4 linked regions of the Homo sapiens genome follow. The protein of the gene in region 4 interacts with the protein of the main gene of each other region in a pairwise test. Each region holds a gene or a part of one and is shown on either strand. Other genes may lie near its edges.

Region 1 (3,861 bases), on a different chromosome or scaffold from region 4:
GAACTAGGTCCTCCAACACACGCACAACTGTTTCCAGTCAAAATTCTAAGCCGATGCTTTTTGCCATGTTACCGGTTCTACTGGGAGTTGAGATAATCTTGGAGATGTAGCCCTAAGAAAAACTCTCCTTTTGCAGCTATTACAAATATCAGATTGTTTTCCCCACTCAGAGAGATAACCAAAATCAAACCCATTTTCCTGCAAAATCAATTATTCTCTGGGGTCCTCTCTGAGGAATAGCTCACCGGGGATGTGGGCTCCTCCATATGTGATATTAACATCGTAATCCCCCGGTGCGAAAGGAATGTACTCAGCACTGCAGCTGCCATCCTTGTTGTCTCTGCAATTTATCTTCGACTCTGATGGTCCCTCAACAGTTATGCCAAGCCCACCAATTCCTGCGCCTCTGGAAAGAGTGGAAAAGAAAGTGAAATGTGCACCATTTATTTATGCTGGTCTGCTTATTGCCAAAATTCATGCAAATTCCCTTTATAAACTATTCCACGTAGCCACCCCAACTCAATTACTACACCTCTCACATAGGGAATTTCACATTAGTATAATGTAAGTAAAGACACTCTGACCCCTCATTTTCAATGCTTATGCTTCATTTATTTTTCTTTTTCCTGAGACAGAGTCTCACTCCATTGCCCAGGCTGGAGTGCAGTGGCGCGGTCTCGGCTCACTGCAACCTATGTCTCTTGGGTTCAAGCAATTCACATGCCTCAGCCTCCCAAGTAGTAGCTGGGATTACAGGCGTGTACTACCAAGCCCAGCTAATTTTTATATTTCTTGTAGGGATGGGGTTTTGCCATGTTGGCCAGGCTGGTCTCAAACTCCTGGCCTCAAGCAATTGTCCCGTCTCGGCCACCTGAAGTGCTGAGATTACAGGTGTGAGCCGCCACACCCAGCCTATTTTTCTTATCTAATTGCACTGGCTAGGACTGCAAGTACAACGCAGGCATATGCCTTGCAACCAACTTTAATAAAAATACTTACAAGGTTGGCTACAAATTTTTACATTATCAAGTTATAGAGCTTGATTGACTCCTGGTTTGCTAAATAGTTTCATGACCATTATCAAGTGCTTTGGTATGTTTTTTAGGTATGCTTGGTCTTTCTATGTAACATAAGTCTCTACAGAAGGAAATACATGTTATAAAAATAAAAATTCATCTTATCAAAAGTTAGGAAACCATGACACATAGGTAGAATCTAGCCACAAAAGTGAGACTCAAGACACCAAATGTAGGGCCTTGCCTACCTGGTAACCACGGTGAAGACATTGGGCTTGTTGGTAAAGGCCTCTTTCAATCCAGGTCCTTGGGCTTGCACCCTAGATGGCTGGCAGCCTTCAGTGACAGCCACCTTGAAGGGACTGTTTGGGATAGGCACGTCATCATATGTCACCTCCACTACATGGAGACCTGCTCAAAACAACAAACAGAAACGCATATTTGCATACAAATCCCCTATTTGTGAAAAATGATTCTCTACTTCAGAGTTTCATCTAGCATCGAAGTCTGCATGCTATACTATGTTATTTGGAAAAGGGGGTTAAAAACACAGTAATGTGGCTGGGGGCAGTGGCTTACACCTATAATCCCAGCACTTTGGGAGGCCGAGGTGGGTAGATCACTTGAGTCCAGGAGTTCAAGACCAGCCTGGGCAACATGGCGAGACCCCATCTCTACAAAAAATACAAAAATTAGCTGAGTGTGGTGGTGCACACCTGCAGTTCCAGCTACTCAGGGGGCTGAGGCAGGAGGATCATTTGAGCCCAGGAGGTTGAGCCTGCAGTGAGCCGTGATCACACCACTGCACTCCAGCCTGGGCAACAGAGTGACATCCTGTTTCAAAACAAAACAAAACAATCCCACAGTAATGTAGGTATGATCTGACTTTTAAATAATACAAACCGTCTATCTGCAGTCACATAAGCCACTCCACCCCAACCAAGCAAATATTCAAGTCAGTCATCCTAAACAGACTACTCTCATTCGGGAAAACACCATCCAGCCATTAACCAAAAGAAAAAGCGAAACCCGTGAAACAGAAGAAACAGGCATCCACAAGAAGACTGAAAATATCTATATCAGAATATCGCAGGCTTCCGATCTCCAGGTAGTGGAGATATACATGGCACTTTTTTTTCTTTATGGTTTTCTATTTATTGAAATTTTTTATAATTCCTAATACTCAAGAAGAAAGAAATTCATACGCAAAGAAAAATGGCACAAATGAGCAACATCATGACATTACCCCATAACTTGCTGAGGTGAGACTGAGGCTAAACCCAGCCCACCTATTACACAAGGCCAGCAAGCCAGGCACTGAGTGGGCAGGTGACTGCAGCGGACGCTGACTTCCACTCTGTCACTCTGCACGTGGCCCTGCTGAGACAGGCCTAGCACATGGGGCAGGCATCAGTACCAGCCACCAGGAGGCAATGACCAAGGGCAGCTCTGAACGAGGGTCCAGTCCGAGGACAGGGCGGCTCACCTTTCTCAAAGGGTGTGTATTCCACCTGGTAGGTCCCATCCGCATTGTCTGTGACAAAGCACTCGGTGGAGGCCCCTGAGGGGTTGGCAATGTGGGCCTTGATGTGGTCACCCCCAACCTGGGTCAGCGGCCGAGAGTCAACTGTAAAGTCGGTGGTAGCTTCCCGGAACACATCTGCAGAGCAAGCACATAGCTAACACTGCCACCAGTACCCCAGACCCAAAAGCAAACCCCAGAACCAAGGTTCTTGGCACTTCAGGACACATGAAGTCCAATTTCAGTAACTGGAAAACTGGTTTTTCTAACTCTCAAATCAAGAATATTAACCCCCTCCATCCCAAAGAAGGCCTTTCTAGAGTAGCCACGGCTAAGTGACAACACGACTGCTCACACCGGGCTCGAGGACAGGTTAAAGGTTGAAGACTAACCTGCTGTGTGGCATGCAGGTGTTAGACAACACTACATTTTAAACTTTTTTCCAATTAAATGCCAACATGTTGTATGTTGAGTTTCCAGAGAAAAATCAAGATTTCTGCCTTTGCCAAAAAACTAGAGATTCTGCTGACAATGCTAGGTCCTGTTCCCCATGGAGAAACAGAAAACAGGGGTTGAGTAGCACGGTCCCCAGAAATGCAATGTGCTTAACCTTCACCAGGGCCCCCCAACTACTCCCCGAGGCAGAGGGAACAGGTGAGCACCGCCTTATATGTCACCTGGCTCCTGCAGGTGGCTGAGTTTGCAGCTCCAAGTTTCAGGTAGCCCTTAAGTCCCAGCTTGTCTTTTTTTTTTTTTTTTTTTTTTTAAATGAAACCCACCTTTCCCTTCTATTCCTGGTCCAAAGACTTTGATCCTGCTGGTGTCCACGGCGGGCTCCACCTTGACCCGGGCGGGGAAGTGTGGCACGAGTTCGCCACCATACTTCATGGTCAACGTGTACATGCCGGCCGTCAGGGGCACGTAGGTCACCGCGTAGGTGCCATCTTTGTTGTTCTGAATACTGACTTCGGCTTTTGTTCCCGAGTCCGAGACAGCTTCCAGGCCCAGGGCCCCCGGTCCCGCTTCCGAGCAGTCGACGCTAAGGAGGCCAGCTTCACCCACCTTCCCGTGCTCGAGACCTGGCCCCGATGCCACGACTTTAGAGGGGTCAAAGGGCATTTCAATGTCAGCTTTGAAGGGAGACCCAGGTATGTGGACTTCTTCAAAGAGGATGTTGACGAAGTACTCCCCGGGTTTTGTGGGAAGGTAAGAGACGGAGCAGGTCCCATCACCATTGTCGGAGCACTCGATTTTGGCCTCGCACGGACCTTCCACCGTTAAGCCCAGACCTCCAGTACCAGCTCCTTTGGTATCGATGGTGAA
Region 2 (3,861 bases), on a different chromosome or scaffold from region 4:
TCCATGTTTCGTCCATTACTCTATTGAAATTCTTGAGGACTGGGTCCTGTCTCAGTTAAATGTCAGTAGAAGATGCTCAGTAATGGCTGTTGGGAGAATTCAGAAGGGATATTCAGGTGTTTGGGCCACAGTTTTGGGAAGATGAGTCACTCCTTGCCCCCTTGTTTCCCCACTTGGTGTGTAGAGTTCTTCTCTGCTATGGTCTTCCGGAGTCATTTCCCTTCTCCAGCCCTGATCTGGCAGAGTTTGAAGCGGTGGGGTCATGTCTTTGCTGCAGATGCTCAGTCGATGCTTACGGAAGGAAGAAAGGAAGAGAGGAAGGGAATTAGAACCTAGTGACTTTCTAGGAAGAAGGCTAGAGAGCAGAGGTTAAGTACCCTGCTTTCAGGAGAAAAGCCTCCTAAGAGCACTTACTCCCAAGTTTTAATATCTGGGAGAAGTGATCTATTTTTCCCTGCACCTAGTACCTAGGTGTACCAGAGTTGTGGTGAGGCCACAGTCAGAAAATTCACTTAAAGCACCAGCACCGGCTGGGCGCGGTAGCTCACGTCTGTAATCCCAGCACTTTGGGAGGCTGAGGCGGGCGGATCACGAGGTCAGGAGATCAAGACCATCCTGGATAACACGGTGAAACCCCGTCTCTACTAAAAATACAAAAAATTAGCGGGGCGTGGTGGCGGGCGTCTGTAGTCCCAGCTACTCGGGAGGCTGAGGCAGGAGAATGGCGTGAACCCAGGAGGCGGAGCTTGCAGGGAGCCGAGATTGCGCCACTGCATTCCAGCCTGGGCAACAGAGCGAGACTCTGTCTCAAAAAAAAAAAAAAAGAAAAAAGAAAAAGCACCAGCACCATGCCTGATACATACTAAGTGCTCAGTAAATGTAGGCTCTGACTTTACCGGCTTCTGCCCCTAAGATGGCCAGTTTTGAACTTGGGGCAGCTTGCTGCTGGGGCAGGGGGAGGGGGCTGAAATAAGGAGGACTAGGCCAACTGCCCACTCACTTGTGTCCCCTGCAGGAGCTGGAGGATCTTCAGAAGAAGCCTCCCCCATACCTGCGGAACCTGTCCAGCGATGATGCCAATGTCCTGGTGTGGCACGCTCTCCTCCTACCCGTGAGTATCCATGGGGACCATGGCTTTGGATTGGGGCCAAATTAGGCCAGGGACATGGGCAGGGAGGGTTAGGACTAGGCAAGAATTTTCCCTGCTTGAGATCCTTTTACTGGAGGTTATCATTGCTGGAGGGGGCTTCTCTCTGAATTGATTGCTTCTGAGATCCAGATACTTCTGAGGTTCACCTTCTGATAAAGATGCCAAAGGACTTTTGACTTAGTAGGAGACCCCTTCCTTAAACCGGTAGCCACCAAGCCCACCACAGAACTTCAGGAGACAAACAGCATCAAAAAGAAGAAGAAATAAAGATTTCTTGGACCTTTGTCAAGGGGTAGGGATAAACTTCCAGGCTCTCACAGTTGGGAGAATTTGCTCCCGCAAACCTAAATTGTATTTTGTTTTTCTGTAGTCTTATTTCAGAAAATTGTTACATATGAAAACACAAATAGCTCATTTCTACTGTTCTTATTTTTCTCTGTTTATTATTTGGTATTTTCTTGATAAAGTCTCTCTGAAAGCAGTATTCCAAAATAGTTTTCAGAGTGCAAGATCTCTCTTTTTTTCATCCGATTATTAGTGACTAAAGATACTTTGAGAAATTAATCTACACTTTTCATTACTTGGAAATAAAATTTAAGACATTGAACTTTTTGTTAGTCAAAGCTCTTTGGAATATCAAAGGAACAATTCATCTTATCATTTAGGATTTGGACTTGTTTTTTTTTTTGAGACAGAGTCTTACTGTGTCACCCAGGCTGGAGTGCAGTGATGCGATGTTCGTTTCCTGCAACCTCCACTCTGGGGTTCAAGCGATTCTCCTGCCTCAGCCTCCTGAGTAGCTGTGACTACAGGCACGTGCCACTATGCCTGGCTAATTTTTGTGTTTTTAGTGGAGACAGGATTTTGCTATGTTGGCCAGGCTGGTCTCAAACTCCTGGCCTCAAGTGATCTGCCCACCTCGGCCTCCTAAAGTGCTGGGATTACAGGTGGAGCCACCACACCCGGCAGGATTTACTTTTTATTGACAATGCAGTGGCCTAGGTTGTGTCGTCTTCTCTTTAAACTGACCTATAGTCCAGAAAAGTAGAGAAAGGCCTGAGTCAGGTCAACATGGGAACCTCTGTCAAGTCCCTTGGGTTACTGTGTTGAAACGATCCACTTACCTGGCTTAGAGTGAGGACACCTGTTCTAGGCCTCAGGTGCCGGGAGAAGATGCTCAAAGGAGCTCCAGGGACTGATTATATCTCCAAGGAGACCAACTTTGAGATGATGAAAGCAGGGGTGATAGGAAAACCTAGGAAAGGTCTCGTTTGGCAGAGTACTATGAAATCAGAGGACCTCAATAGTTGGCAAGACCAAGGTGGTTAAGTGCGCCCCAGGAACTGGCCACAGACCTTCCAGCCATATAGGAGTCCTGAAGAAACATGATACTTGGGAGGAATCCCAGAGCTGGAGGACCAAAGCTTGATGTAAGTCATCAGCTAAGGGGGCCTGAAGGTGCCTGGTGAGGCCATAAAGGAGGGGATGGTTGACTGGCAGAGGAAGGAGAACCAGGAAAGGTCTTTTGGAATAGCACACAAATTCCTCCTCAAAGGCTCAGTCTCAGTTTATGTGTTCACCAAAGTGGCCCCACTTGTCACATCTTGGTCATGGAAGGATTCAGCTCGATGAGTCTTTCGAAGCTAATAGTAAAATTCTCATTCCTTGAGAGTTTCCTGTGGACCAAGTGCTGTTTTAAGCACACGACATATGAGGTCATATTGAATCCTCTCAACCATCCAGTGAGGAAGGTTGTCTTCCTCTTAAAATTGCAGAGATGGAAACCAAGGAGGTTAAGTAACTGGTCTGGGGTCACTCAGAATAAGGTGGCAGGAGTGGAATTCAGCGGACTCCAGGGTCTTCTCTTTTAACCACTCCATGAAAAATGAATAGTTTTCAAAATTTTTTAAAAAGTAGCAGGCCGGGCACGGTGGCTTACACCTGTAATCCCAGCACTTTGAGAGGCTGAGGTGGGTGGATCACTGGAGGTCAGAAGTTTGAGACCAGCCTGGCCAACATGGTGAAACCCTGTCTCTAGTAAAAATACAAAAATTAGCTGGGCATGGTTGTGGGCACCTATAATCCCAGCTACTCAGGAGGCTGAGGCACGAGAATCACTTGAACCCGGGAGTTGGAGGTTGTAGTGAGCTGAGATTGGGCCATCGCACTCCAGCCTGGATGACAAGAGCAAAACTCTGTCTCAAAAAAACAAAACAAAATAAAGTAGCAAAATCCTTTATTTAACCTAGAACTTAGAAGGTAGTGGGACTTTCTCAACTGACTGTAAGATACAGCATGGAATCCTCTGGTCCAGCTTCTCCATTTTACAGACGAGGAAACTGATCCTCAGAGAAAGCTCAGTCATACAGCAAGCCCGAGGCAGAGCTGGGACAGGTCCCCGGAGCTCTCAGCTCCATGACTCTGCTACCTCCTTCCTCTGTTAAGTCCTACGAAGCCCAGAAAGAAGCCCCTTCAGGCAGGACACACTGATACCCCTGTCTTAGTCCATTAGTGTTGCTGTAAAGGAATACCCGAGGCTGAGTAATATATAAAGAAAAGAGGTTAATTTGGCTCAAGCTTCTGCAGGCTGTACAAGAAGCATGGCGCTGGGCATGGTGGCTCACGTCTATAATCCCATGTCTTTGGGAGGCCGAGGAGGGCGGATCACCTGAGGTCAGAAGTTCAAGACCAGCCTGACCAACATGGAGAAA
Region 3 (3,861 bases), on a different chromosome or scaffold from region 4:
ATTCTCATGAGAGCTGGAGGATGGAAGGGAGGCAGTAGCCATCCTAAGCATCACACACAGCCTTCCTAGCTATCCCATCAAATGCTAGTCTAGGTGCTGCTGGAAGGAGATTTTACAAATGTGACTAGAACCCCTAATCAGTTGAGCTTAAATTAATCAAAAGCAAGGTTATTCTGAGCAGGTCTGACTTATGCAGTTGGAAGGCATTTTTTTTTAAAAACTTAGGCTTTCCTCACACTCAGAGACTTCAATAGCAGCTGTGTCTGTGACTGCTCTCCCATCACCCGGGTGGTCCTTCCAACTGCCACATGTGGACAACAAGCTTCAGCTTGCCCATGGGTTTTCAGCCTAAGTAGGCTCCTCCCTTCCTGCCTGTCTGCCCTTGCTTAGCTAGCCCCAGTAATTCCATAAGGCAATTCATTGTAGTAAATCAATATAGATGTGTGTATACATATATACCTTTCCATATATATATGTGTGTGATACATGTGTATATAATATAAAATACTATGTATGTATAGTCAGCCCTTTGTATCTGGAGGTTCTGCATTTGTGGATTCAACCAACTGCAGGCCAAAAATATTCAAAAGATTAATCAATTAAAAAATAGCAATACAATTTAAAAAATACAAATAAAAAACAATACCGTATAACAACTATTTGCATAGTATTTATACTGTATTACATATCACAAGTAATCTAGAGATGATTTAAAGGATACAGGGTGATGTGCATAAGTTGCATGTAAATACTACAGCATTTTATATCGGGGACTCGAGAACATGAGGATTTGGGTATCTGTGGGGGTCCGGGAACCAATCCCTTGCAGATAGCAAGGGACAACTGTACATATACTTATATGTATTATATATTGTATGAAAGTGACTGGTTCTGCATCTCTGGTTAAACTTTTACTAAATTTGGTATCAGGAATGGGGTGCTACTCTAACAAACAGTGGATGTTCTTCAACTTCAGATGGGGTTATGTTCCAACAAACCCATCATAAATTGAAAATGCATTTAATGCACCTAACCTACTGAACATCACAGCTTGGCCTAGCTTACCTTAAACACGCTCAGAACACTTACAGTAGCCTATGATAGGGCGGAATAATCTAACACAAAGCCGATTTTATAATCAAGTGTTGAGTATCTCATGTAATTCGTTGAATGTTGTACTGAAAATGTAGCACAGAATGATTGTATGGGCACTTGAAGTACAGTTTCTATTGAACCCATATCACTTTCGTAACATTATGAAATCCTAAGCCAAACCATTGTAAGTTGGAAACCTTCTGAACTTAAAATGTGGAAACAACTTTGGGACTTGGCAGCGAGTAGAGGCTAAGAGACTTTTGAGTAGCACAGCAGAGAAAGCCCAAATCACCATGAACAGACTGCTAGAGGAAATAGGGATGCTAAAGGTGAATCCTCCGGGGAGAACTCAGAAAGGAATGTGACAGGTGTTCCAGGAAATCGGAGCAAGGAGGATCCTTCCCATGTGTGCCAGAGAGTTTAATGAAATTGTCCATGGAGAGCAGGACTTGTAAGCGATGATGTTGGTCACATAGCTAAGGCTATTTCCAAACAAAGTGTTAAGTGTATCACCTGGTTTCTTCATGTTATTTATAGTGAAGCGGGAGAGGAAAGAGATAAATTGAGGGAAGAACATCGAACAAAAAAGAACCAGTATCTGATGATTCTGAAAATCCTTAGCCTCACCAGATGATGCTAAAAGGTGCTAAAATTAAGAGATTCTTCAGCTGATGAAGAAGCAACTCACCAGGAGCCCTACAGCTTCAAGGAAATCACTCCCACCAACAACTGTGTATGCTCAGGCGAGGGTGTGAAGCCTCAGTGGGGAGCCCAGCCCTGGCAGGCACCTTGATTACAGCCTTGAGACCCCGAGCTGAGGACCCAGTGAAGCTGGACTCTGACTCTCAACCCATAAATACCATAAGATAATAATTGCACTTTGTTTTAGTGGTAATTTATTATACAGTCATAGAAAACTAATAATACGACCTAGGACTTTACATTTCATACACGGAGCAGAAGAATAAATAAACCCAAGCTCAGGACCTCTGAGTATAATTTATTATGTGTGTGATAAAGAAGTAGTATTTTGCAGTAATTTGGGGATTACCATCTCAAATTACTCTAATGCAGAGTAATTCATTCTTTTTTGAATGTTATCATCAGAAAACCAGGGACGAACCAAGATGTTTACTATATACCTGCAGGAATAATTTTGTCAGCATACAGAATGCAATTTTACCAATAATGGAATGGTCTAGAAGCACACTGTTGGCAGGTGGGCACTCTCACACAGTAACTCAGAGAGAGATGACGGGGCTGCAGCCAGAGGCAGCACTCACCTGTGCTTCACCCACGTGTCAGACTCACTGGCTCGATCCGTGTAGTTTTCCGGCAGGAAGCCCCGGCAGCCCGTCCGCTGTGAGATCCCAATCACCCAGCCCTCGCTGGCTTCGTCCTGCTGCGTGGGGTCCACAAAGATGTAGTCACCAGGACTTAGCGTCAGCTCATCCACGTTCTGGGGTTTGTACTGGAATAGGGCTCTCAGGGTCTAGAAAAGAGGCAAAGGGGTTTCACGTCTCGAGCAAAGATTTACATTGGAAAATGGCAGCAATAGGAGGCCTATCACCTGCCACCTCCTGCTTTCTGCCCCTCCAATGTGTTCTGTGTCTCCAAGACTCCATCCAAAGCTTTGTCTGGCAATATATAGCACAGAATGTAATGAAACGCAGCATAGAATTCTTTGGATAGATTTAGAAATACATTTTGGGGCCAGGCGCGGTGGCTCACGCCTGTAATCCCAGCACTTTGGAAGGCCGAGGTGGGTGGATCACAAGGTCAGGAGTTTGAGACCAGCCTGGCCAATATGGTGAAACCCCGTCTCTACTGAAAATACAAAAATTAGCTGGACATGGTGGCGGGTGCCTGTAGTCCCAGCTACTTGGGAAGCTTGAGGCAGGAGAATCACTTGAACCTGGGAGGCGAAGGTTGAAGTGGGCGCAGATCACTCCACTGCATTCTACCCTGGGTGACAGGGTGAGACTCCCTCTCAAAAAAAAAAAAAAAAAAAAAAGAAAAAAAGAAAAAAAAAAGAGATACATTTTGGGATCTATCCATCATCCATCCATCTAGGTACTTTTTTGTCTACAAAAGATCTGAAGGCATAAGCAGACTTTCACATCCGCCTTCCTCGGTGTGAGGTTATTGACACCTCATACGATACAGAACATGGTGGATTCATTCACACGTGCTCTCTGGGTCTGAAAGGAGCATCACACACTTCGTTTCTAAACCCATCGATTCATGGGCAGGAAGTCCCAGAATGAGGTTTCACTCAAATCATTCTTTAAAGTGAATTGTGCTCACTTTGGCAGCACATATAACTAAAATTGGAATGCTGCAGAGAAGATTAGCATGGCCCCTACATTTAAAAAATAAATAAATAAAAAAGAATTAATAAGCAAAACATGTATTCATAGATCTTTACAATAGTCCTTTCCTTTCTGTCTTTTTTTTTTTTTTTTTTTTTTTTGCCAGTCTCGCTCTGTTGCCCAGGCTGGAGTGCAACGGTACGATCTCTGCTCACTGCAACCTCCACCTCCCAGGTTCAAGTGATTCTTCTGCCTCAGCCTCCCGAGTAGCTGGGATTACAGGTTCGTGCCATCACGCCCGGCTAATTTTCTGTATTTTTAGTAGAGACAGCGTTTTGCCCTGTTGCCCAGGCTGGTCTCGAACACCTGACCTGAAGTGATCCACCTGCCTCAGCCTCCCAAAGTGCTGGGATTATAGGTGTGAGCCACCACACCCAGCTTCCTTTTCTAATAT
Region 4 (3,861 bases):
TGATCCACCCACCTCAGCCTCCCAAAGTGCTGGGACTACAGGCGTGAGCCACCGCGCCCAGACTGTAGCTCAAACTTCTGTCTACATATCTTGGCACCCCCAAATCTTCTGGCCCGTAGATACAATCATGGTGCCCTGGGCTGGAGGGAAATCGGTATATGCAAGGAGTTCTCATTAAGGTTGGGACGTGTTTATTGAGTGGTTTATATTCAGTCAGGACCTCATGTGGTGCTTATGTTTCCTGATAAGAGCCAGCACAAAGAAGAGGTTCAATCTGTGTTTTTAAGGAAAACTAAGGAGTATAAAGGGGATGTGAATGTCCAGCTCAAAACTCCATCTTCATATGAACAGCCACATGGAGCTGGAACCAGATCAGGCTTTAATGTTTGAAGTAATGTCAGTTCTGCTGTTCTGACTCTAGGTGCCCGTCCTGTAGCTTTCCGGCTCTGTTGGACAGTGATGTGAAGAGGTTCAGCTGTCCTAATCCTCACTGCCGAAAGGTAGGGAGGCACATTTTTTTCTAGATGTATATTGAATTATGGTATTATGGGCTGCCCTCATGGCCCAAATATCTGCTGTTTACCTGACTGCTGATGTATAAGAAGGATTTGAGTGCTTTCCTTTTCATAAGCAAATGAGGACGAGTACTTTGTGAGTAACGGTTGACATGGTTACTGAGATGGCAGCCACTCTTGCCACTCCAGTTACAAAGCTCTGGATTCCTATTTTATATCATCTTCTTTAGGACAGATACTATAATGTAAAGTGGGAAGTGTTTAGTTTTTCTTCCACTGTGTCAACATTTTTCTTGCTTGCTCTCTTCACCACCTGTGCTCAAATAGCCCCTGCTACCCCTCCCTCCCCACACACACACCTTTTGCCATTTTCAAAGTCCAAACGACGCTTCTTTGATTGAGGAACTGGGCATCTTAGTGGCATCTCCATCACATCTGGTAGGTTATTTATTTGACTGTTTCTCCTCATGAGAACTGACTATATTACGTGGGAGCAGAGCTGTCTAGGTGCATTACTGTTGCAGATCTTTGTTCCCTTTAACTTGGCGCCCTGTGAACTAAGAATGTCTTAAAATCTTTCAGCTATTTAGAAGCCACTTAGAGTTTTTAGTGAATATTAGCATCCACCTAGACAAATACGCTCTAAGCCATTTTTCTAAAATTGCATGATTAGAGTTGAACACTGCAATATCTTTGCCTTGGGGAGAGTAAAGAAATTAAGGTAGAGATTAGAAAAGGAAGAATAAACTAAACTAATGGATCAAAACTTTATTTCTTTTGTTTTCAGCATTAATATTTCTGGCCATTTTATATGTTCGCACCCCAGGCTGTTGCTATAACAATTGTCACAACAGTCGCTGGCATCTTGCAGCTCTTAAGAAAGCAGAGTGCTAGCGTGTCCCTTGTGTGCTTCCAGTGGGTCAGGTGTTGGACTGCCTGGGGAGGTGATGCCTACGCTAAGATGCAGCAGATAAGGAGGAAGTAGCCAAAGGATGGAAAGGGTGGGAGTGGAGTGGAGATGGAGAAATGTTCTAGGCCCCGGGAGTGGCAGCAATGTGGACGCTTACTGGTGCTAGGAGTGTGAAGGAGGCTCATAAGCTGAGTAGGGGCAGGCCCATGCAGCACACTGTCCTGAGGTGGGGAGAGATAAAATATAAGGAAAGTCTACTTGCCTATTGAGTAGTCCAGGTGAGAAATGTACAGCACTGCACAGCCTCTTGGGTCTTCATGAGTTGCTTAGAAGGAGCTGGGAACTACATTTCCTGGTAAGGTTTCAAAGAAGGTCTGCCAGTGAAAGTGCTTATGTACAATTGGGAAGGCCAAAGAAGAGGAGAGACCATTATTCTCTGAGGACGTTTTTTGTTTTTGTTTTTGTTTTTAAGTTTTGAGGCAGGGTCTCACTCTGTTGCCCAGGCTGGAGTGCAGTGGCACGATCTCAGCTCACTGCAACCTCCGCCTCCTGGCTTCAAGCAGTTCTCCTGCCTCAGCCTCCCAAGTAGCTGGGATCACAGGTATGCGCCACCACGCCTGACTGATTTTTATATTTTTAGTAGAGATGAGGTTTCACCATGTTGGCCAGGCTGGTCCTGAACTCCTGGCCTCCAGTGATCCGCCCACCTCAGCCTTCCAAAGTGCTGGTATTACAGGTGTAAGCCACCACCCCCAGCCTGAAGACATTTAAAAGCAGCTGCATTGGTTGCCCAGTGGCTCATGCCTGTAATCCCAGCACTTTGAGAGGCTGAGGCAGGAGGATCTCTTGAGACTAGGAGTCCGAGACCAGCCTGAGCAACATAGACCCTATCTCTACAAAAAAAATTTTAAAACTCAGCTAGGCATGGTGGTGTGTGCCCATAGTCCTAGCTACTTAAGAGACTGAGGCAGGACAATCAGTTGAGCCCAGGAGATTGAGGCTGCACTGAGCCATGATTGCGCCACTGCACTCTAGCCTGGACAACAGACTAAGACTCTGTCTTTAAAAGAAAAAAATTTAAAAAATAAAAGCCTGAGGGCACACATGAGTCTGGAACAGCATCTAGTGAGTATCAACTTGGCATGTTGGTGGGAGCTTCCCAGGGGCTCTTAAGATCCCAAATAGGAACACCACATATGTTTTTGTTTGTCTATGGGAGGAATATACATGGCCTGCTGAACTTGAAGGTAGCCATGTAGCTTCTTGTGGTCAGTGAAACATGTGAGTAGTTAGATCACTTGCAGAAAAAGCCGTAAAGGCATGTGGTGTGGGGTAGTGTCAAGATGACAGAAGAGAAAGCTCCAGACCCTCTTTTTCCCATAGAGAGAACAGTTCAACAACAACGGAAGGACCATTTCTCTCTGTGAGAAATCCAGAAACCAGTTGCATCAAAGGCTGGGGAATTTGTGACGCTGGCTCTCCAGAGTTCCTCCCCCTGGCACAGCACCATGTGATTGGGAGGAAGCTCCCAACTCCTGGCATCTTTCTGGGGAGGAAAAAGAAGACTGGAACATATATCTAATATTCAGACCTTTCAGGAGGCTGCTCAAGGGACTGGTTTCTGTCTTGTCTCACAGGAAAGGGCACCAGGTTGGGGACCTCTGAGGACAAATGGGATGGTGAAACTAGCACGTACTGACTCCTCATTGCCCTCTCCCTGCTCTTCTCGGGAGGGAAGGAGTTGGAGCATGAGTCCAGCATTCTAGGTTTTCTGGAGTCTGCCCAAGACTCTCGTTCCTGTCTCACTCGATGAAGCACTGATGGGACCTGGCATGGTCTAGGTCCCTGGGGGCTGCTGAGAACAAGAGAAAGCTGGGTGGTTTGTACTGCGCCAGAGGACCCACGGTACAGTAGGCAGAGTCCAGTGCACCTCGAAGGCTGCTTTTTGGGTCCAGGGGAAGAGTAGAGCATGTGTTCAGCATTTGGGCTTCTCAAGGGGCTGCCTGAGGGACTGGCTTCTGTCTCACCCAACTCACTGCTGGCAGAACCCAACCTACTCTAGATGCCTTGGAGCTGCTGAGGCCAAAAAAGAGCTGGGCAGCTTACAGCAGCTCCAGAGGGCCTGTGATACCTCAGACAGGCACCAGAAGAAGCAAGAGCTTGCAAGCTCCTGAAAAAAGGAAAACAAAAGCCTGAGCACTTATATTAGCCTACGATTTAGCAAAATCTTCTTGCAGGAAGCCTATTTTAGAATAAAGTATGAGTATCTCATGTAATTTATTGAGTACTGTACTGAAAGTGAAAAAGAGAATGATTGTATGGGTACTTGAATTACAGTTTCTACTGAATGTGTATCACTTTCACACCACAGTAAAGTCAAAAAGTGTAAAACCATTGTAAGTTGGAGACCATCTGTATATGCACCCGACATCAGTG

What was found. The genes of interacting proteins can lie anywhere in the genome.
Region 1: the proteins of RNF216 (region 4) and FLNB interact in a two-hybrid assay, tested with the Homo sapiens proteins (one study listed by BioGRID).
Region 2: the proteins of RNF216 (region 4) and UBE2L6 interact in binary tests that used the Homo sapiens proteins (3 or more experiments, as listed by UniProt).
Region 3: the proteins of RNF216 (region 4) and UBASH3A interact in binary tests that used the Homo sapiens proteins (3 or more experiments, as listed by UniProt).

The regions. Positions count from the first base shown.
Region 1 is NC_000003.12:58,123,147-58,127,007, reverse strand, and holds part of FLNB (filamin-B), read right to left. Parts: coding exon 3,318-3,861; intron 2,677-3,317; coding exon 2,503-2,676; intron 1,428-2,502; coding exon 1,265-1,427; intron 407-1,264; coding exon 246-406; intron 1-245. UniProt on the Homo sapiens protein: Connects cell membrane constituents to the actin cytoskeleton. May promote orthogonal branching of actin filaments and links actin filaments to membrane glycoproteins. Anchors various transmembrane proteins to the actin cytoskeleton.
Region 2 is NC_000011.10:57,557,587-57,561,447, reverse strand, and holds part of UBE2L6 (ubiquitin/ISG15-conjugating enzyme E2 L6), read left to right. Parts: intron 1-1,015; coding exon 1,016-1,111; intron 1,112-3,861. UniProt on the Homo sapiens protein: Catalyzes the covalent attachment of ubiquitin or ISG15 to other proteins. Functions in the E6/E6-AP-induced ubiquitination of p53/TP53. Promotes ubiquitination and subsequent proteasomal degradation of FLT3.
Region 3 is NC_000021.9:42,417,127-42,420,987, reverse strand, and holds part of UBASH3A (ubiquitin-associated and SH3 domain-containing protein A), read right to left. Parts: intron 2,588-3,861; coding exon 2,379-2,587; intron 1-2,378. UniProt on the Homo sapiens protein: Interferes with CBL-mediated down-regulation and degradation of receptor-type tyrosine kinases. Promotes accumulation of activated target receptors, such as T-cell receptors, EGFR and PDGFRB, on the cell surface.
Region 4 is NC_000007.14:5,708,400-5,712,260, reverse strand, and holds part of RNF216 (E3 ubiquitin-protein ligase RNF216), read left to right. Parts: intron 1-350; exon of another isoform or gene 351-421; coding exon 422-500; intron 501-3,861.